Linked DNA regions of Homo sapiens: region 1 is linked to region 2. Evidence: fine-mapped expression QTL. A gene starts in region 2. The other region holds a variant in brackets. All regions are shown on one strand. Distances are from middle to middle.

The links.
Region 1: its variant is fine-mapped to the expression of ANP32A in tibial artery (GTEx, PIP above 0.99).

Annotation. Positions count from the first base shown.
Region 1 is chr15:68,766,532-68,772,051 of GRCh38, forward strand. No RefSeq gene overlaps it. Among named protein-coding and RNA genes, the nearest start is that of MIR4312, 33 kb to the right of the region's middle. The variant T/C (reference allele first, on the strand shown) is at 2,340.
Region 2 is chr15:68,818,641-68,823,640 of GRCh38, forward strand. It overlaps ANP32A (acidic nuclear phosphoprotein 32 family member A), which reads right to left and starts at 2,255. Exons shown (of 7, transcript NM_006305.4): 1 at 2,058-2,255. The coding sequence starts at 2,111. RefSeq lists silencers at 1-46, 97-336, 597-706, 2,207-2,456, 2,507-2,666 and 1 more and enhancers at 372-953, 954-1,535, 4,817-5,000.

The DNA of each region.
Region 1 (5,520 bases), 52 kb before region 2:
TTTACTACCTAGATTCTATAATGAACATTTTGCTGTATTTACTTTACCATATATACATCAATTAATCTTATTTTTTATGCACGTCAAAGTGCAGAAATCAGTGCACTTCATCTCTAAATGCCTCAACATGCATATCATTAATAAAAGTTCTCTATTTATGTTTTTTTATTTTTGTAGTGTACACACAGTGAAATGCACAAATATTATATGTGTTTGGTAAATGCACCTGATAGCAATAACTTAGGGTTACCCTGAAAATGACCCCGTATGGCAGACACACCTGAATGTGAACTAGGGCATCTGGGAGTGGCCAACCTGGAGATTTGTTCCTTGTCTATGAGGAACATCTGAGCCCCAGTCCCACCCTGCGGAAGACAGCCCATATGGGAGATTGAGTCTCTGAGTTCTGAGCTGAATGAAGGTTGCCAGGTGAAGGTTGTTAGGGTGCTAAGTGGAAATGCTGTATCAACTGCATGCCTTTTGCAAGCAGTTGCATTTCTTCTGCCTGGCCACCACGACTGCACTCTCTCTCCTACAGGTAAGCCCCCAGTAAAACTCCGTGTCACATTTGGTGGCTCTGGGTCTCTTCTTTGGCCTCTAGAGCCTAGTGCCATCATCACTGGAGTCGATAGGGGTTAGCACAAAAACATGTTGATTTTTTTTTTGAGATGGAGTCTCACTCTGTCGCCCAGGCTGGAGTGCAGTGGCGTGATCTCAGCTCACAGCAGCCTCTGCCTCCCGGGTTCAAGCAATTCTCCTGCCTCTGCCTCCCGAGTAGCTGGGACTACAGGCACGTGCCACGAGGCCCGGCTAATTTTTTGTATTTTTAATAGAGACGAGGTTTCACCATGTTGGCCAGGCTGGTCTCAAACTCCTGACCTCAGGTGATCCACCCATCTTGGCCTCCCAAAGTGCTGGGATTATAGGCATAAGCCACTGCACCTAGCCAGATTTTGACAAATGCATACACACGTGTAATCTGCACTCAAATTAAGAGAATAATTCCATCTTCAGGCAGTTCCCTCATGCCTCTTTTCAATCAGTCCCCATTTCCATGCTGGCAGAGGCTTGCTATTAAATTTTATATAAATGGATATGGGGTGTACACTTTTGTGTCTGGCTTGGTTTTGCTCAGCATAATGTTTCTGAGATTCTTCTGGGTGGTGCTTATCAGTAATTCACTGATTTTTATCGTTGGGTACTATTCTGTTGTATAGATACACCCCAATTTTTTTTTCATTCATGTTTTTGGACATTTGAGTTGTTTCCGGTTTGGGGCTATGACAAACAAAGTTGCTGTAAACTTTCTTGTACAAGTCTTTTGTGAATGTATTTTACTTTTGTTGGGTAAATATCATGGCATAGAATGGCTGGGTCCGGCTGGGCGCAGTGGCTCACACCTGTAATCCCAGCACTTTGGGAGATCAAGGCAGGTGGATCACTTGAGTCCAGGTGTTTAAGACTAGCCTAGGCAATATAGCGAGACCCTGTCTCTACTAAAAATACAAAGAAATAATAGCTGGGTGTGGTAGTGCACACCTGTGGTGGTCCCAGCTGCTTGGGAGGCTGAGGTGAGAGGATCGCTTGAGCCCCCAGGGGTCAGGGGGGAATTGGGGAGGGGGCATGCAAAGATTGCAGTGAGCTGAGATCATGCCACTGCACTCCAACCTGGGTGACCCAATGAGGTCTGTCTCAAAAACAAAAACAAAACAAAACGAAAAAGAAAAAGAAAAAAAAATTGCTGGGTTGGAAGGTATGTATACAATTATAAAATTAAAAATTGCCAGAATGTTTCCCTAAGAGGTTGTACCATTTTCCAAGCCCACCAGCCAATACATAGCTCTCTGATTGCTCCACATCCTCACCAACTTTTGGTGTTGTCAGTCTCCTTAATTTTCACTGCTTTAGTGGATGAGTGATAACTCATTGTGGGTTTTATTTGCATTTCCCTGATGATTCATGATGTTGGGCACTTTTTCACGTGCTTATGAATTTTGACAAATGTATACACATGTGTAATCCACACTCCAGTAAAGAGAATAATTCCATCCCCCGCAGGCAGTTCCCTTGTGCCTCTTTCCAATTAGTCCCCATTCCCATGCTTGTAGGAGCTCTTCTTTTGTGGTCTGTTCAAATATTTTTCTCATTTTTTAATTTTTTTTTTCTTACTGAATCTAGAGCATGTTAACTTTTCAGGTGACAATAAACTTTACATACTATCCCCATTTGTATGCACAGTAATTGTTTTCTCTTCTTTTCAATAAATATTGTAACATCCCCTACTGTACCTTTTTCCTCCTAGAAAGCTAGAAACTGCATTTTTAAGTGTCAGAAGCCTC[T/C]TTCCATTCTGAGACAGTTTTAAGAATTCTCATTTTTGGTGGCTGCTGATCAAATTTGGCAAAATTTTGTCTGTCACTATAAAATCTCAAGGGACACCTCAACTCCAAATCGTGCTTCAGTCTGCTGTCTTCAAACAGAGCAGAAAACAAGCCTCCTTAAACTTTGTAGCCCCACCCAATACCTACTCCAGTGGTTGGCATGGTGGTCAATATCTGCTCTTGGCCAGGTGAGAGGTGGCGCATGCCTGTAATCTAGCACTTTGGGAGGCCGAGGTGGGTGAATCACCTGAGGGTAGGAGTTTGAGACCAGCCTGGCCAATGTGGTAAAACCCCGTCTCTACTAAAAATACAAAAAAAAAAAAAAAAAAAATAGCCGGGCGTGGTGGCAAGTGCCTGTAATCCCAGCTACTTGGGAGGCTGAGGCAGGAGAATCGCTTGAACCTAGGAGACAGAAGTTGCAGTGAGCTGAGATCATGCCACTGCACTCCAGCCTGGTGACAGAGTGAGATTCCGTCTCAAAAAAAAAAAAAAAACAAAAAAAACAAAACCTCTCTCCATATATCTTTATATATCTGCTCTCATTTACTATTTTCTGGAGTGTGGTCCATTTCCTAAAAACCAATCTGTCGAGAAGTTTGACTCCATAATGTCAACAGAACCATGGGTTTATCCTCTTGTTTAAGACCCCTCACTGCAAAAACTCCATATTTCTGCCCCGCTTTGCCTGCTAAGGAATTGAATGGCAACAGCTTCGAGCTGATAAGTAGTAATAAGGACTGTGCCAGGAACCAAAACGATGGAGGTCAAGTCAAGTCAGTTAGGCACCTGTAGAATATGAATAGGGTTCAAGGAAGCCAGCAAGTCAAGTCAGGTAGGCACCTGTAGAATATGGATAGGGTTCAAGGAAGCCAGCAAAGACAGGTTCTGTGACTGAGGCCCACAGGGGGATCTAGAGTGCTGAAGTGTGGGCAGCCAGACTCAGGCACTCTGCTGCCTTAGACAATCCGTGGAGCTCCAAGTGGTGAGCACGCCCACAGCCTCTTCTGGGAAAGTGGGCCCAGGCAGTTCTTTCAGCACAGTTGAGAGGGCCTATAAATTAAAGCAGGAGCCCCCTCACCAGATGATTGAAGCAAGGGTTGGTGTCCAAGCCAGAACCTGACCAATCAGGGGGCTTCCTAGTGTTGGTGACCAACCAGCTTAGGCAGCTCATTTTTGCCTGGGTCATGCAGAGAACAGCAGAGTGAACTGAATGCCTGTGGCCCTGGAGCTGCCATCATATTTAGGTGATAGAGGAACCTTTGCTGCAGTTGTCCAAAACACCTGTTGTATGGTCTGGATGGGGCTTGGATGGTATAGTGGTGTTCCTGATTTCCCCCTGCCATCTGAATTCTAACAATGAAGTTTGGAACACTGGCCAGAGGTGACAGGGGACACCTGACTTATGTATCTGGAAAATGGATGCTCAGTCAGTGAACTTCTTGCCAGAACTGGTCTGAGAGGGTGGGTGGATTGGAGACAACAGGCAGTGACTGCCATCTGTTCCTGGTTAGAACAGAGAAGTGAGGGTGTGGGGCTGCAGGAAGTTGGGCAGCCCTCAAAAGGAGAGGCCAGCAATCTCCAAAGACTCAGAGAAGACAAGCAGAACCCAAGACAGCCAGCATCTCTGTGGACATCCATAAGCACTGGAACAGAAAAATCTGGCTCTGTAGCCTGCCCTAGCCCTGCTGCACCAGCAGCTTAAAAATACTTCCTTCCATGTATATGCTCAGGACCCTGAAGAGCAAAGCCTAGAGCTGTGTTGTCCAATATGATAACCACCTGTGTCTCTTTCCACTTAAATTAATTAAATATAATTAAAAGCTTCATTACTAGGCCAGGTGCAGTGGCTCACGCTGGTAATCCCAGCACTTTAGGAGACCAAGGCGGATGGATCACTTGAGGTCAGAAGTTTGAGACCAGCTTGGCCAATGTGGTGAAACCCCTTCTCCACTAAAAATACAAAAATTAGCTGGGCATGGTGGCATGCACCTGTAATCCCAGCTATTTGGGAGGCTGAGGCAGGAGAATCGCTTGAACCCAGGAAGTGGAGGTTGCAGTGAGCCAAGATCGCACCATTGCATTCCACCCTGGGCGACAGAGTGAGACTCCATCTCAAAAAAAAAAAAAAAAAAAAAAAAGCTCCATTCCTTAGTCTCTAGCTGCACTGCAAGTGCTCTGTGGCTGGACACAGTGGCTCATGCCTGCAATCCCAGCACTTTACCAGCACTTTGGGAAGCTGTGGTGGGAGTATTGCTTGAGCTCAGCCTGAGTAACCTAGTAAGACACTGTTTCTATAAAAAAAAAAAAAAAAATTAAAAAAATCAGCCAGGCAGTTACTCAAGAGGCTGAGGTGGGAGAATCATTTTTGCCCAGATGGTAGAGGCTGCAGTGAGCTAAGATTACTCCACTGCACTACAGACTGGGCAACAGAGCAAGACCCTGTCTCTAAAAATTAATTAAGAAAATACATGAACGTTATAGCAGGAAAAACAAGGGCTATTTTCTACCCTTTTCACGTCCTCAACCTGCTGGGACCATGTGTGGTCCATTGGTAAGCAGTTGATGAACCTCCTCTTTTGCTCCCTGCCTGATAACTCCACTCCCCCTGCAGACTTCTCATGAGGAAGCCAGAAGGATGGCTGCCCCTTCTTCCTGGGCCCCAGAGCCTGGAACTGGGGCATTGTTCTTTGTTCCACATTACTGCTTCCATGGCTCCTCCCTTCTCCTTCAAAGAGGCATGAGTGCCTCTTCGTTGCTGCATTTGGCTTCTGCATGAGTGAGGACTAGCTTTGATTCATTATTTTTTTTTCTATTACTATTCCCATTATCATTCTCAGCAATGTCAACAATCTCAAGGATTAACCTTCCAATACCTTGGCTTCTCACTTCTGCAACCTCCTCATCTCCAGTGAAAGTCGGCTCCTGTATGCTATGAGACACCTGCTCCCAGAGTCACATCCTTGACCTTCTCACTAACCCCAGCAACCCTTCAGCCCTAGCACATCTCCATCTGTTGACCTTCCCCACCTTCTCACTATCAATGCTGACTCACTTCCCTCCCTAGCCAGCTTAGAACTCATGGTCCATCCTTACAGCCTTCTAAATGCCCTATCCTCCATGGCCTGTGCTTTACTCATCAGAA
Region 2 (5,000 bases):
AGTTTAAAGAGCCGGTTCGACCCGCTTTCCTGCTTGCTCCCGGGGGGCCGGCAGCGTCGGTCGGGTTCGCCAGGCCAGCCGCGCCCCCGCACCCACCCGCGGCGACCCCGGCCCCGCGCTTGGCGCCCTTCCCCCTCCGCGCAGGGGGCTTCCGGAAAGTACGCGGGAAGACCGCGGCCCCGGCCCCCTCCCCCATCACCACACCCAGCCCCCAAACGCTAGGCGCCGGGTCCCGGCCGGGACGAAAGCGGCCGGAGAGAGGCAAACCGCCCGCAAATAGTGCGCGGAAACTCCGGCCTCCACCGGCGGCGCCCCCTCCTCTCCCGCGGCCGCCCCCTCCCCGCCCTGCGCGCCATAAGGCACTCGCACGTCTCCAGTCCACAGCTGCGTTAAGGCGGGGAGGGGGTAGACAAAAAGGATCTTGTTTTCAAAAGTCTCACTCAGGTTTGGGGGAGGAACTAGGGAAAAGAGGAAGCGAGGCCTGCCTTCGCCGGGATTCGGGTTTAACGGGCTAGAGGGGCGACAGGCCAGCGCACGGTGCTGCCCAAACTCCCAACTCCATGGAGCTCGGGCCACCGAGACTGGGGGCGTCCTCCCGCCAGCGCGTCCCCGGTCCCCCCAAGGGGCCAAGAGGGGAGCTGGCCAGGGTCTCCGCCCCAGAGCCGCCAACTCGCCGAAAACACTCAGGTTTGAAAGCGAGAGGGAGGCAGAAATAAAAACCAGCGTTCGAGTCACCCACCCTCACCTTCCCCCTCCTCAGGGGTAAGCTTTCGCTCGAGCCTCGCGATTCCCACCCGTGTAAGTTTCCTCCGGCCGTGCTCCCGCCGCTGCCCAATCAATAACGGCGGCTAGCGGGCAAACTCCCATCCTAGAGCTGCGTGTTTGCCATGCCCGCATAAACGTGGACCCAGCCAGTACCCACCACGGGCGCCAGCTCCGGGCAGCTCGCGTCCTGACAAAGTTTCCCGTGCCCATTTATTAAGCAGGCGCCGAATGGCTGCCGACAAGCCCAGCACTGAGAAAGACGGGCCGGGGGTTCGAGCTGGGGGGCACCAGGGCCCAAAGGCTGGCATCTTGGGGAAGCCGGAAGGAGCTGGGGCGAGGGGGCACCGGGACGTAGCCTTTGGGCAACTTGCACCAGCGATCGCTGGAGGCAGGGAGACGCGGGGATTATCTGTGCCTTAGCACGTTCGAAAATCCCTCCCCCTCCTTCTAATTTATCCTCCCTTCGGAAGGAAAGGAAGAAACATCAGCATCTGGCCCGAAGGTGGGGTGGAAAGAGTGAGGGAGAAAGAGGAGGAGAGGAAGGGAGGCAGAGAAAGGGAGGGAGGGAGAGAAAGGGCGCGTTCACGAACACTACAAAGTTACAAATATGGCTCCCCCGTCTCTCGCCTCATCACTGCAAAGAAATGAAGACGCACTTTAAACTCCAGCCATTCCCAACTCCGCTGCAGCCCCCTCCCCACGCGCTCTCCCCGGGGGCCTCGGCCCACATTTATCAGAAACTAAACCGGACTCGCGAAGCCCCAAACTTATTGTGTGTGCGAGCGAGCGAGCGAGAGAAAGGGAGGGGGGAGGCGCGGGAGGGGGGCGGAAGGGGGGATACATTTATAAAATGTAAAACCCCCTTTTTTTGTTGTTAAATCCAGGAGGCAGCCCCTCTCCTCCTCCTCCCTCGTTAATCTTCCCCCCAGACGGAGTCACGGGAGCAGCGATCTCCGAGGGTGATTTCGCCTCATTCTCTCCGACCCAAACGCGTGCGCCCGCCGGCCCCCGATGGGTGCACACTCGCACGCACACTCTCGCACCCACACTCGCACACGCGGGAGCACACGCACAGGTAGTCACACACCAAGGGCAGCGGCGGCGGCAGCCGGAACATGCTCGGATGGCATTGCAACCCCCCAGCCTTGCCAATTCGCTTGCAGTCCGACCCCCAAACCCGCACCTCCCGGGCGCCCCCCCCCAAAAAAAGTGCCTCCCCCCAGCGCGCACACACACACACACACACAAAGTAGGAGAATGGACCGACAGAGATATTTTTGGCAAATGCTCACATCAGAGGGCGTCCTGTTCCGCAGCTCTAAATGAATCCGTCTGCCCATCTCCATCTCTCGCGCTCTCTCTCTGCAGAGGCTCCCGCGCCGGCGGAATTCAATCAATAAACCCCGAACCCACGGCCGCGCGTTTTAGGACTTTGAAGGCTCAACCAGCTCCGCTCGGTTCTCGAGCCCCCAGCACCCGCGGCGCACACTAACCTGATCGCCGTGGAGGCGGGATCTGCGGCCCCATGGACGAGCGGCAGCGGCCCGAGCCAATCGCCGCCGAGGGTCTCCGGGCAACAGCCAATGGCAGTGGCGGCGGGGGGGGGAAGGGACCAATGGGCGGGCTGCGCAGCCGGCCAGGGAGGCTCGGCCATTTGGTAGTGGTGCCGGAGACGGACCCCTTTAGATTTCGGGGCGGCTGAGGAGCGCGGCGGCTGCTCTGTGGCTGAGTGAGGGGGGTGGGCGGAATGGCGGGGGAAGGGAAGGTGACTGTGCCTCGAGGGCCGAGCCGCCCGGCCTTGCCAGCCAGCCGCCGCCTCAGCGTTCGGCCGGGGGCGGGGCCGCAGGTGCGTTCTGCGAGGGGGAGGGGCGCGGCCGGAGGGGTCGGGTCGGGGTCCCCGCCCGGCCGAGGGCTTCGCGGGGCGGCGCGACGGGGTTGCGGAAGGAGGCGGGCGGCTTGAGGTCCGGGGACCGCGGGCTGCCCAGCGGGAGGGCAGATGAAAGGCCTGGAAGGAGGAGAGGGGTCAGGGTGCAATGCCGGGAGGGGCTCGTCGGGTCCCGGGTCCGGCGGCTCGCGCTGGGGAGCGTGGCTGCCCCCGTCACCCCCACCGCGGCTGCCCAGCAGCCCGCGCGCCCCTTCCCCTCCGGCCTCGTCCCTGTCAGGCCGCCACCATCGCCACCCTCGTATACATAAGTCAGTAAAAGCAAGATGCTTCCACTTTTGGATGACTTACCGCGCGGTCGCGACCCTTCCCACGAAGAGGCTTTTCACTTTGCTGTCATATTAGGTCAGCTTGGAAGAAGTGATCACCAAGAGACACCCAAGATCTTGTTTAGGCAATAAATGAATGAAGACCATGGATTAAGAACCGTTGCTAGATATGTAGAATATTAAAAGGTGGAAAAGGAAGGTGCTCATAACTCCTGGTTTTCTGGACCAAACATAATTTCTGGGCTTTATAGACCTAGTGAAAGAGAACGGCGCACGGTTTATTCTAATCGTCCACCTGAGTCATTCGGTTCGGTTTGGGTTGCCAAGGAGGCTCTAACTGGAGCCCTTTCTCCTGGTTTTTCGGCGTGGTTGCCTTGGGTATTTTTGAATCACATTAAGTTTTAAGAGACCTTAAAGCCCCGATGCCCACTGGGTTACCGACTTACGGCACTAAGTTGGCTGCCTGTGGCTGTTAATAAACCACGGGGATTGTTGTCAACGAGGACAGATACATCCTTACCTTTCCACACGACTGTATTTTAGTGTTTGTTTCTACATGTCTGCACTCTTCCCCACACGCCTCAAGGTAGTTTTTCTGGATACATATGTTTATTTTTCAGGAACAGGAGTTCAAAGGAGAGATAAGCCAGTATGTATGTTGCAAAGTTAAAATACTGTTGCATAATAGCAATCCAGTTTCATTCTTAGACATACGAAGTTGAGGAGGAAATAAAAAGTGACAATGTAAATAAAACACATACAGAATGCTTACACTGGGGAAGAAGCTGTAGTAACTTTAATATTGCAACCTGATGGATTGCAAGTGTAAAGCCCTGCAACTAAGGATTTTACTCAGTAAATTCTTTCAGATAAAATGATAAATGGAATTTGAAGTCTGATGTTTACTCTGATTAGGTGGGAAATGCACCATAAAAGTTAGAAGTCATTGTTTTATTTTATCTGGGTATAAATAGTATAATTTATTTAACTTGTTGACTTGCCTGTCATCCTCAGATTTTGTTAATCTTATTGAAGCCTATTTGTATAGTTGGAATTTATTCTAAGTTTTATTGGCTTCTTTGTAATACATGAGGAACCCCAAATTTCCTATTTATGCCATTGAGACAGTTGTTATTTCTGGATATGGTGTTTAGGATTGTATTCAAACAGAACTCTTATCAAAACAGGTCAATATGGTGTGTATGATCTGTGTAACATAGGAGTCCTGAAGTTTGTGTTCTCTTTGATGGTAAATGTTCATTTTCAATTTAAAAGTTTAACCACAGTTAAGACCACGCTGCTAGCAATGCAATATGAGACAGTGTCTTTCCAGAGGAGTAATCCCTTAAAAACCAACCAATCAAATGCAGAGATATGCCCCATCCAGCTTTGCTAAATAGAAGCAAATAGCTCACTTTATTGTACAAAGACTCAAGAGGAAGACTTAGAAGCCCACCCCCTCCCCCATTAAAGAGAAAGTACAGAAACAAATTAGAATCGAAAAAATCATGGCCTGATTACTAAATCAAAACGTTAAATGTGACAGTTGTTTTTAGAAGCATCTTACATTTATACATTTTGATGACTTTTGTATTAATGTTAGAAAATTGAAAGAAGGCTTCACTGGATGTCAGTCGTTACAGAAATTGAAATATCCAAAAGTATATGTATAACCAATTGAGTAATTTCCGCTTTCCTTACACACTTGAAATAAATTTTCTTTTGCTTTTACAAATAGATCTATATGTAAGAAAATTTTCATATGATTTTGCTTTTTTATTATTAAAAAAGGAATATAGTAAAGCCAAAGCTGAGCTGTATTTGCCCCACACAACATGACCAAATATAAAAAAAACCACTGCTCTTACAAATATCTTATTTTACAAAGTTGTTTTTTAAATTACATTTTATTGTATATTATAATAGTAAATAAGTGTTCTAAGTGGCACTGCATTTCAGAAAATATAGAAAGAAATCCCATATCAAGGAATCTTGGCTGAATTTTGAAACGGAGTTGGGAACAG